2 separate regions of the Homo sapiens genome follow, and region 1 is linked to region 2. A link means that fine-mapping ties the variant in region 2 to the expression of a gene that starts in the linked region. Tissue or cell type: lymphoblastoid cells. Region 2 holds a variant in brackets; the other region holds the start of a gene. All regions are shown on one strand. Distances are from middle to middle.

Region 1 (8,281 bases), 920 kb after region 2:
TGACATGCACAAGAGCACATGGAACCCTCTCAATAAATATTCTGCCAAAGAATATTGAAAAATGGCTTATGCTGGAACATGACGCCCAATGGAAATACGGTACCAATATATAATATGTGTTTAAAAAGGTGTCATTCTCTCAATCCGAAGGCCTGTGGACCTAACAATTTTCTAGTAGCAGTAATGACTCATAGGAAGTCACTGCAATACACTTTATGTTCTTCTGCATCAGTCTTGGTCAGTTAGCACCTTGCACTCTCAGAGGTGTCCAAACTGGAATGCAAAGTCCTGGGGCATGTGCTAAGACTCTATCATAGGAATCCACACTTCTATGGACTATAGAAGAAATTAAACTCTTATTTATTTTTTATCTCATGCTTTTAAATTTTGTTTTTGTAAATATATGATTTATAATAATAAATAATAATCTATGCAATGGTGCATTTTTTTTTTCTTTTTTGGTAGAGACAGTGTCTCTCTATCTTGATCAGGCTGGTCTCAAACTGTTGGTCTTGAACTCCTGGCCTCAAGCAGTCCTCCTGCCTTGGCCTTCCAAAGCACTGGGATTACAGGTGTGAGCCACGATGCCTGGTCCAGTGGTGAATTTTTAATGTGTACATGAATATACATATTGAGACTACATGCTCAAACATTTTACTGATAGCAATGTGTGATCTAAAAGTTTGAAGACCGTACCTCTAAATAATTCTGCTAAGCTAAGTGTAATTCAACAAAAATATCTTGTGACCATAAAAATATGAAGAATGTTTTCCTATGGTTGGAGGTTGGGGATAAGAGTGGGGAGTAGGATAGGCTTTTCTATTTTTCACAACATAGTTCTACTAGCAAATAATGCACAACACTTCACTCTGCAATTAAATGTAGCAACTCCTGTCGACTTTTTTTCCTTTTCAAAAAGGAGCACAGTGAAATTCTAAGAAAGTTTTTTTGGTTTTCCCTCCAATTCCCTCTTGCCTCTGAAGTTCATGATTTGGAGGGAAGGGTTGTCAAATTACTCAAAACCTGTGCTGGGTATTAAAAGTCCTCGGTTTAAGTTCCTTCTTCATTATCATTCTGTGCAATATGGAGCAGGCTATATAACTTGTCCCTGACTCATTTCTCCTATGGGTAAACTAGAGGTGATAATACTTAGCACTGACCTCAGAGCAGTGTAGTGTGGATAAAGAACATTTTGTTCCTTGTGTCAACTAAATGAAACTGCCATTAATAGACTTTTTTTTTTTTTTTGAGACGGAGTCTCGCCCTGTCCCCCAGGCAGGAGTGCAATGGTGCAGTCTGTACTCACTGCAACCTCCACCTCCTGGGTTCTAGTGATTCTCCTGCCTCAGCTTCCCGAATAGCTGGGATTACAGGTGCCACCACTACGTTCAGCTAATTTTTGTATTTTTAGTAGAGACGGGGGTTTCACCGTGTTGGACAGGCTGGTCTCGAACTCCTGACCTCAGGTCATCCACCCGCCTCCATCTCACAAAGTGCTGGGATTACAGATGTGAGCCACCGCGCCCACCCCTAATACAAACTTTGATATTATCTGTTTAAAATGCTGTGATTGGCTGGGCGCTGTGGCTCATGCCTGTAATCTCAACACTTTGGGAGGCCGAGGCAGGTGGACCACCTGAGGTCAGGAGTTCGAGACCAGCCTGACTAACATGGTGAAACTCTGTCTCTACAAAAATACAAAAATTAGCCAGGCATGATGGCAGGTGCCTGTAGTCCCAGCTTACTCGGGAGGCTGAGGTGGGAGAATCTCTTGAACCCGGGAGGCGGAGGTTGCAGTGAGCTGAGATCACGCCATTGAACTCCAGCCTGGGCTACAGGGTTAGACTCCATCTCAAAAATAAAATAAAATAAAATGCTGTGATTTTTTATATACTTTTCCTTTTAAAAATGATTTTTCTAAAAAAATAAACATCACATTTCTAAATACCACTTTGTTTTCTGAACTTTTTAAACTTTTCTGATTTTGTTTCTCTTTCTCCCTCTTACACAGGAGTGCTCACATGCACACATACACTCTTTTAACAACTTTATGGATGCGAGAGAAAAACCTTAAGACAGCATCAAGGAAATAAAAGGGGAACTGAAATAAGTTGCCCTAGTTGGGTTTTCTTTAAGTTTTAAAGCTACTTACCTAGGCCATAAAATCGTAGTGTTTATGTAATCTCCAAAATGTTTGTATTTGAGAATAATTCACCAACTCTTAAAACGGAAGGAACCCTAAGAAAACATCTAGGCCTAAGATAATGCCTGACACATAGTAGATGCTGAATAAACATTTAATTGAGGGAATCTGGAAAAGCTTCTTATTTTAATCTTAAAAATCAAAACCAAGTCTGAGCATTGGAGAGGTTAAGTAACTTGCTCAAGATTGCTCAGCTGGTTAAAGAGTTTAATCTACAATTTATTCCTTCTAATTTCCAGCTTTGACTTCTTTCCACCAACCTGTTGACTTATGTGTATTGAACTGTCTCATATAATCTTCTGAAGTTGCATTGTTGAAAAACAATCAGAAAGACCAGTCCTGAGGTTCATCATCTCCAAAAGTCATGCAACATATGATGTTCACATGAGATGTGAAATATGTAAAGAGTCATATATTTTTATATATAATATGCAAAATATAAATCATGTATATATTGAATCAAAGGTCTGTTTTGAAGGCTAAGGGTCAATAGCCAATCTTCCATGACTTATTTTACCTAACAGCACAGTTTGCATGTCCACACAGGTGATGGCAGTCCACTGACCAGTTAAAAGTTGTTTGGCTATTTCAGCAAAATGTTTATCTTTGTGTGTTGTTATATTGATTTTTTTGAATCTACCTACGAATGAGGCACTAACAACCTCAATGCATTAGAGTCCTGATAAACTTATCTTGCACTATTTTGGCCTATGTGATAGCTAACCCATTGACAAAAGAAATCCAAGGTGATAAAAGCCTTTCTTGGCCACTTGTTAGCCGGGTCAGGCTGTAAAATCGTAACACAATGCAGGCCTCTTCCATGGGGCACCAAAAGGCAGCGATGAAAAACCCCCCTCACTTCCATATCCAGTGGAGTTGTAGTTTATTACCATAACCCTCCCAAGTCAAAAGGACACCAGTTTCAAGCCTTGCAACTTGGTGCAGACAGGGGTTTTCCCCTTTACCCCACTCTGCTGGGCCTCTTTACCTGTCCTCTCCTACTGTCTACAGGTCCCGAACATTAGAAAATAGAAAATGTGATGATCTTTGTGTGTCTCTGTAAAATGTGTGTATGTGTGCGTGTGTTTGGGTGTAACGGGCCTCTTGTTTGGCTGCGCGGCCTGTCCGTCACTGCGCGGGCCAATGGCAGGCTGCCTTATATAAAATGAGTGTTTTCAGTCTCTCCGGGTTGCATGTACTGTATGTGGAGCAGTGTACAGTGAAGCGGAGGCAGAGCGGCTCCGCGAGCTTCTCTCCACTTTCCCATAGAGAAACCCTGACTGGCCGCTGAGGGCTAGCTACACACACGCCCTCACGCCCGGCGAGCCCGCGAGGTAGGCGCCCCCCATCCCCAGCCCTCCCTGGGCGCACTCCCCTCACTTTCTGTTTTCCTACTCACTTGCGAGCCGCCGGGCTGCAGCCCCAAGGACTCCGCGGCAGGAGCAGCGGCGGCGGCGGCGGCGGCGGCGGCGGCAGCCGGTAGGGTGGACTTGAGGAAGACGGAGGGAACCCCGCGCGTCCGGAGCCGCCGCCAGCCGGCCCGCTCCCTGGGCACTTTCCCCCTCCGCCAAAACTTTGGGTCGGGAGAGGTCGGGGGCGAGGGTCGCGGCGGCCGCGCCGGCTGGGGCCGGGGGGCGGGGGGCGCTGAGGCAGTGCCCTGCGAGCGGGAGGCTGGGGGCCGGGCTGGGGAGTAGTAGGCCAGCCGGTGCCAGGCTGCGTTTGCAACCAGCACCTCTCGGCACACAGGCAGCGCCGCCTGAGAGGGGCACGGGCGCCGGGGCGCGGGCTGGAGCGGCCCCAGGAAAACAACAACAGAGCCCTCACGCCGGCGGGCGGCTCGTGGCCGCCCGGGGAGCCCCAAACTTCATCTCGGCGAAAGTACGTGGAGCCCTGCCTGGTCTCGGCTGCCGGGGAGGTGGGGCCTGGGGAGCAGGGGCAGTGGAGGAAGGTACGAGGAGCCAGCCTTCGGTGGATTTATTGAACGTTTCGTCTGCGTTGGTGACCGGGAACAGCAGCCCAGTTGCTCGTTCATCTGGAGAGTTGGGATTTGGGTGTTCCGGCCCCGCAGATCAGTGCCCTCTCACCCCCCACCCCTACCCAAATGCGCGGCGAGTAGAGAAAGTGCTGTTTTAGTGCCAGAGTAGCCTGGAGGAAGAATAGGGGGAGAGGGGGAAGAGGGCGAGGGAGAAGGGGAGAGAGAAGAGGGAGGGAAGGGGGGGGAGAGAGGGAGACAGAGAGAGAGGGAGAGAGAGAACGGGAGGGAAGAGAGGAGGGGGAAGAGGAGGAGGGAGGCTGTGTCAGGATTTTGCTTGAATGTGGGATTATGTTGTGTCAATAAGTTTAAGGTGGAGAGAGCGAGGCTGAGGGTGGTGGTGGAGGGGAGGAGGAAGGCCTTGGCCGTTTAAAGTCTTATTTCTGAAGGTAAGTTACGGCTTTGCCTGGTCGCGATGACAGAAAACTTGCAGATCCTTTATCCGGGGATGGGGTCGATGCCTCTAGAAAGAGCTCCCTAGCCCTCTTAAGCCACACTCGTGTTACACTGTTATTTGCTGCGATCCGGGTCGCTAGTAAATTACAGAAATCAGACTCGAGGTTTCTTTTCCTCCTCCACCTCGTCTCGCTCACTCACCCTCTGAAATTTATTATCATATTTTATTTATTTTTTGGTATTGTATGAAACTTAACATAACTGAGACCGAACCCGAGTCCTGTAATTTACAAGGACCCTGAATCCCAGAATCTGGAACACGTTTATGTGTGAAATAGCCGCGATCATTTCTGCTAAATGAGGAAGGTAAAACGAAACGATGCAAAAAGCTAAGACACAACATGTACGACAGAGGGGGGGGGGGGGAGAGGGAGAGACAGAGAGAGAAGCTATTTTTTGCTTTCCTTTCTGTAGGAAGGAAAATAAAGCGTGCATTCCCCTTCCTTCCCAGTGTGTAGGGTCTAGTCAATATTTTAACTGTCTGTGGACAAATTAGTCCAGGTGGATCTTGTTGAAAAGTTTCGCGAGGTGGGGTGGAGGTGGGGGGGGGGGCGAAGGGGAAGGTGGGTGGAGGTTGTGGGGGATGGGGACGGAGCGAGCTCTGCCTCTGCTAATGGTCATTGGCCTGGGGCTTTGAAACCATTGCCTGTCCTGCTAATGACACGTCCAGTTCTCTTCTCCCGGCCGCGGACGCCGGGCTGCCGTTCCCGGGGTGGCTGACTGGGACTGGGGTACTTTCCCCGCGCGGGGAGGGGCGTTCTTCGCCATCTCCTGGGGTTGCCCACTGGCGGCGTGGGGGCCCCCACGCGGCCCCCCGCCCCTGCGCGCCGCCGCCACCTCTGCTCGCGCGACTTTTGTAGGCAGCCAGCGGCCCAGGGGCGCCGGGGGTCCCCGGCGCCGACGTCCCCGCGCGGCCACCCCGGGTCCGGCCCCACGCGCTCTGCGCCGCGCGGTCCAAGCCCGGAATGGCAGCGCCGGGCCGGGCGCCGGCGGTGCCTCCCTGGGGGGCAGCGGAGGCAGAGGCAGTGGCGGCGGGATCTTCGCCGGGGCCCGCGGGAGGAGGAGGAGGAGAGGGAGAAGGAGGAGGGGAAGAAGGAGGAAGAGGAGGAGAGGGAGGCGTTTTCTGCCCAGACCGCCGCCAGTTCGAGCAGGCACGGGCACGGGGACACCCCACTCGTTGCTCCTCCGTTATGGAAAGGTGTTTAGCAGACTTTTACGCCCGGAGTGTGGTATTTGCACTTCATTTTTTCTTCCCCCCTCTTTCCCAAAGCAAGATGGACTCTATTCCCTTTCTCTTTCTCCCACTGCCTCTGCCTCTGTCTTGTCAGCCTTTAAGATCGACATTTTGTACTAAGATGCAAACTTGATGGTGACCAGCAACAAAGCCGGGGTGGGATCCCTCGCTCTCTTCCTCCCTCCTTGTTTCCTAGCTCCCCCCACCCCGACCTCGCAGACCTGGTGGCCCTGCACTTGCCGCTGTGGGCTTTGGCGAATGTGTTTTCCCTGGTCGGTTCCTATCTCCAATCTGGGGATTGTGACCCGGGCTGGGTGTTTGGGAGACGGCAGTGGCCGCCCAGGTCTGAAAGGCTGAGGGCTTCGATACCTGGACCCGCTGCCGCCGCGGTGGCACCTCCCGCCGTCTCCTGGGCAAGGCGAGGCTCGGGCTGCCTATCGATCCCTATGATTTGGTTACTGGTGTGTTTGTCCTGGGGGCGGTGATCACTTGTGCAAGTTGATGAATGATCGCGGTGTGGTTTTTGCGTTTGCAGAATGGATCAACTTTCTGCTTTGTACATGTGGGGAGTAGGAAGCGAGGGTACGGGAGATACCCTAGAATGCCAGTTGGGTTGCCCCCCAGCCTCTGCCCTTTCAATACGGGGAGCTTCTTTGCCTTCTGTTCCCACAGTTCTCCAGTGTCGGGGGGTGGTAGAGAAAGGGGAGGGGTTAGTGGGAGCTGGACTCCTGGGTTTTGGTACCTTCTCTTCATAGATGTTACAGGACTTGGGACTGTACTATTGTAAAGCCCTACTATACTGATGATGTACCTTTATTTGATACTTTATAGGTCACTATCATATGACAAAGGCTTTGCCGCAGTTCATCTTCCTCCCTGTGTACTTTCCATTTGCCTTCCTGGGTAAGTATGCAAACTGTTCGTACAGGGAAGCAGGATGACAATTAGTAATGACATAAGGGTCTTTATTGTTCACAGAGGAAGATGCTTTATTGGGGTTACAGCACCCCAGAAACCTTGTCTCACTGAGTTTCCCACAGCATAAGTCAGTTTATGATTCTTAGTGTTTAGAATTCAGCTGTGGGTTATTATTAAGATAGTAAATATTCATTTTGTGTTTATCTACAAGTAATTGTCGTTTCAAAACTTATTCTCAAATAGACATTTTAATTTATAATGAAATTTTACATGGCATTGAAGGTCTAGTAAATTTAATGCTAGACAATACTATAGGAAGAGTGCAGTGTATGAGTGGAGAGAATTATTAAAAACCCAAGGAAGCATTGTGCAGAAGTCCTCTAATTATAGTGACTGACATTTGCTTACTCTCTCTCAAGTTCTCTTTCTTGAGTAACCTGTGGTGTTTGTAACAGTTACTTTTGGGGTGGGGAAAGGTGGGATTGGCAGTGTGGTAAATCTAGCGTTTAGTGCACTAATTTGATTCAAAATTGATCATAATTTCTTTTAAAACTTACATGTTTGGAGAAATTAGGAACAATTCGGTAGCCTGTAAATTTAATAAACAAAGACTTTGAGATCTGTTGTTAAGTGCCTTTTTCAGATATATGACTCCCAAGTGGAAAAATCTGCAAAATATGTGTGGGACAGTAAGTGTGTGGAAAATTTGTGAGAGGTAACAGTGTGGGTAAGAACTGAGGGTTTACAGAGCATTTGAAAGCAGCACAGTGAGCCTAATCTGCAGAAAACCACCTTGTAAGTTTGCCCCTCCATTGTAAAGGAACACCCCAGGTACTCTTGAGTTGTTGATGTTTGGAAACTAGTACTAAATTGTGTAAATCAGCTGTAGTGCTTTGTAATATTACCATAGTGAATTTAGAGATTGTATTTTGTGAATGAAAATGAACTTGAACTTACTTTTCTGTGAAAGAAAATTTAGAGACCTCATCTGTGGTGTTTCCTGGATTGCTGACATAATGTGTACATTAACAAAATTATTGTCTTTGTATTAAGAATATAAAACTGTTGTCTTAGTATTGAGTTAGAGGACTAGACCTTTCTGGTAGTGTCCATTTGGTAACAAAATATACTTTCATGTTATTGAAGACTTTAGATAATCTATGTAAGTTTTGCATTGAACATTTAGAAAATCTAGAGAACTTTAGATAATCTGTATATGTTTTGCATCGAACATTTTCTATGGAATATAAATATTGCATTACTGCTGATAATTAGGTGGTTTGTTCACTAAGAGCTCAGAATACATCACATACATAGCAGGCCAATCGGAGTGTCAAAATGAGAAGGTTCTATAAGTTGAATTTAGTGCACACTAAAATACATGGATTTCATTGTCTTTGAGTTTTTTTAAAGCTTGTTTGAAAAGTTTCATTTTGGG
Region 2 (8,564 bases):
TTCATTATTATAGCTTTATAGTATATTTTCAAGTCAGGAAGCATGATGCCTCCATCTTTGTTCTTTTTGCTTAGGTTTGTTTTCTATTTGGTATCTTTTGTGGCTCCATATGAATTTTAGGATCAGGTTTTTGAAAACAGGAACAAATTTAAGTACTCCCCTTCAGTGTGTATGCCTTTTATTTCTTTTATCTTGCCTGATTGCTCTAGCTAGAACTTCCATTCTTATTTTGAACAGAAGTGCTGAAAGTGAGAATTCTTGTCTTATTCTTCATCTTAGAGAGAAAGCATTCAGCTTTTATCCACTCAGTGTGAGGTTAACTATTGAGTTTGACATATACGGCTTTTATTGTCTTGAGCAACATACTTTCTATGCCCACTTGTTAAGAGATTCTATTATAGAGGGATGTTGGATGTTGCTGAATGCATTTTCAGTGTCTCAAAATTATTATATTGTTTTTGTCTTTCTTTCTGTTCATGTGGTGTATCACATTTATTGATTTTCATGTGTTAGATCATTCTTGCATCCTGGAATAAGTCACACTTGATCACAGTGAATAATCTTTTTAATGGGCTATTGAATTTGGCTTGCCAATATCTTGTTTAGAATTTTTGCATCTATATTTAGCAGAGATCTTAGCCTGTAGTAGTCTTTTTTGTCATGTCTTTGTCAGATTTTGGACTCAGGATAATACTGGCCTCATAAAATGAGTTTGGAATAATATATTTCTCTTCAATTTTCTGAAATACTTTGAGGAGAATCAATATTAATTCTTTCTTAAATGTTCTATAGAATTCAGAAGTGTACTTCTCAGATCCTCAACTTTTCTTCAATGAAAGGCTTTTTATTACTGACTCCATATTCTCACTCATTTTTAGTCTTTTCAGATTTTCTATTTCCTCATTATTTAATCTTGGTAGTTTATGTGTTCAGGAATTTATCTACTTCTTCTAGGTTATCAAATTTGTTTGCAATATCATTATTCAAAATAGTCTCTTATAAGCCTTTATATCTCTGTGTTTATCAGTTGTATTTTACTCTTGTTGCCCAGGCTGGAGTGCAGTGGTGAAATCTCAGCTCACTGCAACCTCCGCCTCCTGGGTTCCAGTGATTCTCCTGCCTCAGCCTCCCGAGTAGCTGGAATTACAGGCACCCACTACCACGCCTGGCTAATTTTTTGTATTTTTAGTAGAGACGGGGTTTTGCCATATTGGGCAGGCTGGTCTCAACTCCTGACCTCAGGTGATCCACCCACCTCGGCCTCCCAAAGTGCTGGGATTACAGGTGTGAGCCACTGCACCAGTCCATAATGTGTCTTTTTTAATCTCTGGTTTTAGAGTGTTTTTTACTATTCTACCTAAAACTTTGTCAATTTTTTTTTCCAAAAAACAAACTCTTCATTTTATTAGTCTTTTGAATTGTTTCAGTCTCTATTTCAATTATTTTTGCTCTAATTTTTATTATTTCCTTCTTTCTACCAACTTTGGTTTCAGTTTGTTTTTGTTTTTCCAGTTTCCTGGAGTACAATGTTAGGTTGTTTATTACAAATCTTTCTTTTTTATTGATGTTGGCATTTATTGCTATAAATTTTGCTCTTAGAAATGCTCTTGCTCTGTCTTGATATGATGTTTTTCCATTCTTATTTGTCTCAAGAAATTTTTAAATTTTCCTTTCAATTTCCTTATCGTGATGCCTCTGGCTTTGTTCTTTTTGCTTAGAATTGCTTTGGCAGTTCAGGCTTCTTTTTGATTCCATGTGAATTTTAGACTTTTTTTTTTTTAATTCTGTGAAAAATGATGTTGGTGGTTTTATAGGAATAGCATTGAATGTGTAAATTGCTTTGGGCACTATGGCCATTTTAACAATATTGATTTTTCCTATTCATGAGCATGAGATGTTTTTCCATTTATTTGTGTCATCTCTGATTTATTTCAGTAGTGTTTTGTAATTCTTGTTGTAGAGTCTTTCATCTCATTGTATGCTGTATGTCTAGGTATTTTATTCTTTTTGTGGCTATTGAAAGTGGGATTGCATTCTTGATTTGGCTCTAAGTTTGAACATTATTTGTGTATAGAAATGCTACTGATGTGGGTACATTGATTTTGTATCCTGAAAATTTACTGAAGTTGTTTATCAGTTCTAGAAGCCTTCTGGCAGAGTCTATGGGGTTTTCTAGTTATAGAATCATATTGTCTATAAAGAGAGATAGTTTGACTTCCTTGCTTTCTGTTCGAATGTATTTTATTTTTTTCTCTTGCCTGATTGTTCCGGCTAGGGCTTTCAGTACTATGTTGAATAGGAGTGGTGAGAGTGAGCATCCTTGCCTTGTTCTACTTTTCAAAGGGAATGCTTCCAAATTTTGCCCATTCAGTATGATGTTGGCTGTGGGTTTGTTTTAAATGGCTCTTATTATTTTGAGGTATGTTCCTTTGATGCCAAATTTGTTGAGAATTTCTAACATGAGGGAATGTTGAATTTTATCAAAGGCCTTTTCTGAATCTGTTGAGATGATTACATGGGTATTGTTGTTAATTCTGTTTATGTGGTAAATTACATTTAATAATTTGCATATATTAAAGCAACCTTGCATCTGAGAAATAAAGCCTACTTGATTGTGTTGAATTAGCTTTTATCTAACTTCAAACTATATTACAAGTCTACAGTAATCAAAACAGAATGCTACTGGTATCGAAACAGACACATAGACCAATGAAACTTAATAGGGAACACAGAAATAAAGCCACATATCTACAATCACCTGATCTTTGATAAAGTCAACAATTATAAATAATAGAGGAAGGACTTCCTATTCAATATATGGTGCTGGAATAACTGGCTAGCCATATGTAGAAGATTGAAACTGGACTCCTTACTTTAAACACAGACAAAAATTAAATCTAGGTGTATTAAAGATTAAATGTAAGACCCCAAATGATAAAAACCCTAGATGAAAATCTAGGAAATACCATTCTAGACATGGTGGCAAAGAATTTATTACTAAGTTCTCAAAAGCAATTGCAACAACAACAAAAATCAACAAGTGGGACCTAATTAAGCCAAGGAGCTTCTTCAAAGCAAAAGAAACTATCAATAGAGAAAACACACAACCTACAGAATGCGAGAAAGTATTTGCAAACTATGCATCCAACAAGGTCTAATACTCAGAATCTATATGGAACTTTTCAATAAGCAAAAAACAAGTAGCCCCATTTAAAAAAAATAGACAAAGGACATTAACAGAGACTTTGCAAAAGAAGACATACGTGCAGTCAACAAGCAATATGCTCATTATTACTAATCATTAGAGAAATGCAAAGCAAAACCACAATAAGAAACCATCTCACACCAGTCAGAATGGCAATTATTAAAAAGTCGAAAAACGACAGATGCTGGCAAGGTTGCAGAGAAAAGGGAACACTTATACACTGCTGGTGGGAATGTTAAATTAGTTAGCCACTGTGGAAAACAGTGTGGAGATTTAGCAAAGAACTCAGATAAGTTCAGAGCTACCATTTGACCCAGCTCTCCCACTATTGGGTATATACTCAAAGGAAAATAAAAATTTCTACTAAAAAGACATATGTACTTTTATGTTCACTACAGAAATATTCACAATAGCAAATACATGGAATAAACCACCATGCTTGTCTATATGAACTGGATAAAGAATATGTGGATACATACAACATGGAAAACTACACAATAATGGAAAAAGGATAAATTCATGTCCTTTGCAGCAACAAGGATGTAGGTGGAGACACTTATTCTAAGTGAAGTAACACGGGAATAGAAAACCAAATACCACATGCTCTCACCTATAAGTAGGAGCTAACCACTGAATATACATGGACA[T/C]CCAAAAAGAAACAATAGACATTGGGGAGTGCTTTAGGAAGGATGGTAGGAATGCAGAGTGTGGGTTGGAAGGGTACTTATCAGTTACTGTGTTCACTACCTTGGTGACAGCATCATTCGTACACCAAAAAACCTCAGCAATATGCAATTTACACATGTAACAAACCTGCACATGTACACTCAGAAACAAAAATTAAAACTTTTTTTTCATTGATCTATTGGTTCTTTAGAAGTATATTGTTTATTTCTATGTATTTTTACACTTTGCATGTTATACTGTTGTTGATTTCTAGTTTTATACTATTGTGATCAGAAAAGATGCTTGATATAACCTCTATCTTCATTTTTTTTTTTTTTTTTTGAGATGGAGTCTTGCTCTGTCACCCAGGCTGGAGTGCAATGGCACAGTCTCGGCTCACTGCAAGCTCCTCCTCCCGGGTTCATGCCATTCTCCTGCCTCAGCCTCCCTAGTAGCTGGGACTACAGGTGCCCACCACCACGCCTGGCTAATTTTTTTGTATTTTTAGTAGAGGCGGGGTTTCACTGCGTTAGCCAGGATGGTCTGAATCTCCTGACCTTGTGATCTGCCTGCCTTGGCCTCCCAAAGTGCTGGGATTACAGGCGTGAGCCACCGTGCCCGGCCTATCTTCATAAATTTTATAAGACTTCTTTTGTGGCATAACATGGGATCTACTCTTGAGTAAGTTCTGTGTGCAGTTCAGAAGAATGTGTATTTCACAGCTGTTGGATGGAATGTTCTGTAAATATCTGTTAGGTCCATTTGGTCTATGGTGCAGTTTAAATTCAATGCTTCTTTGTTGTTTTTCTGCCTAGATGATGTAACTATTGCTGAAAGTGTGGTAGTGAAGACCTCCACTTTTATTGTATTGCAGTCCATTTTTCCCTTTAATTCCAATAATATTTGCTTTGTATAACTGGGTGCTCCAGTATTTGCTGCAGACGTATTTACAATTATTATATTCTCTTGCTGAATCAATCCCTTTATCATTATATAATGACCTTCTTTGTCTCTTTTTGCAGTTTTTAACTTAGAGTCTATTGTATCTGATATAAGTATTGCTACTTCTGCTTGCTTTTTATTTCAACTTACATGAAATATCTTTTTCCATTCCTTCACTTTAAGTTTATGTTTGTCTTTAACAATGAGGTGAGTCTCTCATTAGCAACATATAGTTAAGTATTTTTATTTTCATCCAGCCTCTATCTTTTAAATGGAGGATTTAATCTATTTTCATTCAAGATTATTATTGATAGGTAAGAATTTATTCTTTCCATTTTGTTAATAGCTTTCTGGTTGTTTTATAGATCTTTTGTTTCTTTCTTCCTCTCTTGTTGTTTACCTCTGTGGTTTGGTAGTTTTCTATGGTTTTCATTGTTTTATTTCTATGTATCATTTATATATCTGCTGTAAGTTTATTTTGTTGTGGCTACCATGGGGCTAATATAACGAGTCTTGTAGTTATAATAGACTATTTTAAGTTGATAGCAACTTAACTTTGGTTGTGTAAAAATACTGTAGACATTTTCCTTCCCCTCTCACAATTTATATTTTTGTTGCCTTAATTTACTTCTTTATCTATTGTATTTCCAACAGTTACCCATTGTAACTGTTATTGTTTTTGATCGTATTGACTTTAAACTTTTATACTAGAGTATTGAAAGATTTACCAGTGCATTAGTACACCAGTGCATCACTGGGGTATTCTGAGTTTGATTTATGAATTTACCTATACTGGTGAGTTTTGTACTTTCACATATTTTTATAGTAGTAATTATTGTCCTTTCATTTTCAGTTAGAGCACTGTCTTAAGCATTTCTTGTAGGGCTGCTCCAGAAATGATGAATTCTTTCAGGTTTCACTTATCTGTAAAAATCTTATTTCTCCTTTTTTTTTGAAGAATAGCTTTGCTGGATATAGTATTCTTGACTATCAGGGTTTTTGTTTTGTTTTGTTTTTGTTTCTTTTTACTCTGAGCACTTTTAATATACAATTTCCTTCTCTCCTAACCTGCAAGGCTTCTTCTGAGAAATATGCTGATAGTCTAATGAAGATTCTCTTGTATGTGACCTGAGGATTTTCTCTTTCAGCTTTTATAATTCTCTTTGTCTTTGACTTTTTATAATTTAATCATAATGGGCCTCAAAGAGAACCTTTTAGGGTTAAATCTATTTTGGAACTTTTGAGCTTCCTCAATTTGATGTTGTATCTCTCCTAATTCTTGGAAAGTTTTCAGTTATTATATCATTATATAACTTTCCTATGCCACTTCCCTTCTTTTCTTATTCTCAAACTCCTATAATGCAAATATTTGTTCTCTAAATGGTTTTCCATATGTTTTTAGGCTTTCTTTATTCTTTTTTTATTTTTGATGATTTTTTTCTCTGACTACATTATTTCAAAAGACCTGTGTTCAAGTTAAGAAAACTTTATTTCTACTTAATCTACTCAGTTGTCAATGCTCTTAATTGTATTTTTTATCTTATTGTTTAAATTTTTCAGCTCTAATAATCCTTTTTGTTTCTTTTTTATGATATCTTTCTTTATTGAATTTCTTATTCAGATTATGGATAGTTTTCCTGATTTTTTTTTATTTGCTTGTCTGTGTTCTCTTGCATCTCACTGAGTTTCCTTAAGATCATAATTTTGAATTTCTTTTCAGGCATTTTGTAAATGTTCTTTTCTTTGGGGTCAGTGTCTGAAAACTTATTGTTTCTTTGGGGCTGTCATCTTTCCTTGCTTTTTGCGTTCCTTGCTTTCTTGTGTTCCAACATTGATATCTGTGCATTTAGTGGAACAGTCACTTTTTCAAGTTATCCAGAGTACCTTTCTTAGGAAGAGACTTTTTCCTATAGATGGGTTTTAGGGTATTAGTTGGGTTTGATGCATTGGCTTTGGTTCTGAGTAAACTCAGTAGCATGGTCCTTGTGCAGTTTCTTCATCTGTAATCTTCATCATTAATTTCTACAGTTCGTTTAGTTGCCTCAAATGCAGAAGTTTTTGAAGCTAATGGTGTGTGTTTGCTGGGGATGTGGGTGCTGGTTGGTTGTGGGTTAGGTATGTGATGCGGCAAAGGGCCAATAGGCTGCCCAGTGGGCTCTCTGGGGAGGTAGGAATTGCTGCACACATGGACACAGTTGCCTGGGAGGCTTTGTAGCAGTCTCTCTGGAAAGACAGAACTGCTTCCAGACAGAACTTCAAGCTGAGCATGAGAGTCCAGGTGTGGCTGGGCCATATGGTTCTGTGGTAGTCTCCCTGGGGAGGTTGGGCTGCCATTAGAACAGTTATCATGCCAGGCATGAGTAGGTATGGGTAAAATGGAGCCAGGAAACTCTACAGTTATATGCTCAAGAAGGTGAGCCACTGCCAAATCAGCTGTCAGGCTGGGCATAGGTGTGCATGGGTCAGGTGAGGCTGGGTGGCTGTGTGGCAGTTTTCTCAGGGAGGTAGGACTGCCACTGTGCAAGCTGTTTAGCCAAGCATTGGTGCATGTGTGTTCAGTGGGCCAGCTGCTGTTCAATAGCTTCCCTGCTGTGCAGATCTGCCAGTTCTCTGGAAGGGTGGGGTGCTGCATGGGTTTCGACACTTTGGTCTCAGTTGTTTCATCTTGCCTAAGTTCCATGCAACTGGGGTCATGGTGCTACAGGCACCTGCATGAACATGGTGGAATAACAGCAGGGTCTCAGGGACATGGAGAGTCAGTTGCCACTAGTCCCCAGATCAGGGCACATCCTAGCAGTGGGTTTGGTTTCAAGATGGTCCTATGCCATAGCAGCTTAGGTTGTGAGGATGGGGATGTTCAAGGTGGGCTTCTACTCTGATATGACGCAGCTACCTGTACTCCCAGCTACTCTCTAAGCTGGATTCACAATCTACTAGGATTTGGGGCCTCTCCTGTAGCAAGAATTTCTGGCATTTATGGCAGCAGTGAGAGCCATTGGGGATCTCCAGCTTATTCCTTCTTTGTAAGAAGGCTCTCTGACTCCAAACTGATTTCGTTGGAGAGACAGTTTGTCAGAGGCAGGATACCTTGCTCCCCTTCTATTGTTTTATTCTGAGATTTTGTGCTCCGCAGGAATTTTGCCACTCCCCTGGCACTCTTTAGTATATTTCCCCAGTCACTCCAGTCAAACATAGTTGGTTATCTTGCTGACATCACTCCTCTGTCTCTATCTTTAAAAAAAAATAGTATTGCATGGTAGAAGAGAGAAGATATACCTTTTTTAAAGATTAGCTTAAGGCTCACTATGCCTCTATAAATTATAGTCCCTTTCACTTTAAGCCTTAATAATGTACTTATTGGAAACGTTTTATATGTTATAATAGTTGTTTGAAAACTATTAACCTCTTTGGTTAATTTGTCACTTTCAAACAATTGCAATGCATAATTTACCACTGTTAAACAATTCACCAATTTCTAACAAAGTTCAGTTGTACCTTCATAAGTACCTTTATAAGAGTGCTTACCATACAACAATAAATCACAATGTCTATCACATCATAATAAGCAAATAACTTATTTAATTGAATACTTTCAAAATATATATGTTTTTGTTAGAGAAAGTATGAAGATGGACAACCTTTTTTAAATGATGTAGATAAAATAATTTATAAAGTCTTCTGTTATTCAATTCTTCATAAGTAGAAGAATCGAAGTGGTTAAAATAATGGCTATATATACAAAAAAGAGGAA

Which allele goes with the higher level. Positions count from the first base shown, and alleles are read on the strand shown. Sizes are in standard deviations (SD) of each study's normalised expression.
For the expression in lymphoblastoid cells of the gene that starts at base 3,392 in region 1, allele T in region 2 goes with a higher level than allele C (large effect, 0.79 SD a copy in GEUVADIS).

The links. PIP is the estimated chance that this variant, and not a neighbour inherited with it, causes the effect.
Region 1: BBX starts here. The variant in region 2 is fine-mapped to the expression of BBX in lymphoblastoid cells (GEUVADIS, PIP 0.95).

What each region holds. Positions count from the first base shown.
Region 1 is chr3:107,519,571-107,527,851 of GRCh38, forward strand. BBX (BBX high mobility group box domain containing) reads left to right here and starts at 3,392. Exons shown (of 18, transcript NM_001142568.3): 1 at 3,392-3,537; 2 at 6,757-6,828. RefSeq lists enhancers at 3,009-3,058, 5,932-5,981 and silencers at 3,459-3,768, 3,799-3,888, 3,999-4,068, 5,522-5,731.
Region 2 is chr3:106,597,143-106,605,706 of GRCh38, forward strand. All of the region lies in intron 2 of LOC101929485 (a long non-coding RNA gene), which reads right to left. Among named protein-coding and RNA genes, the nearest start is that of LINC00882, 640 kb to the right of the region's middle. The variant T/C (reference allele first, on the strand shown) is at 3,853.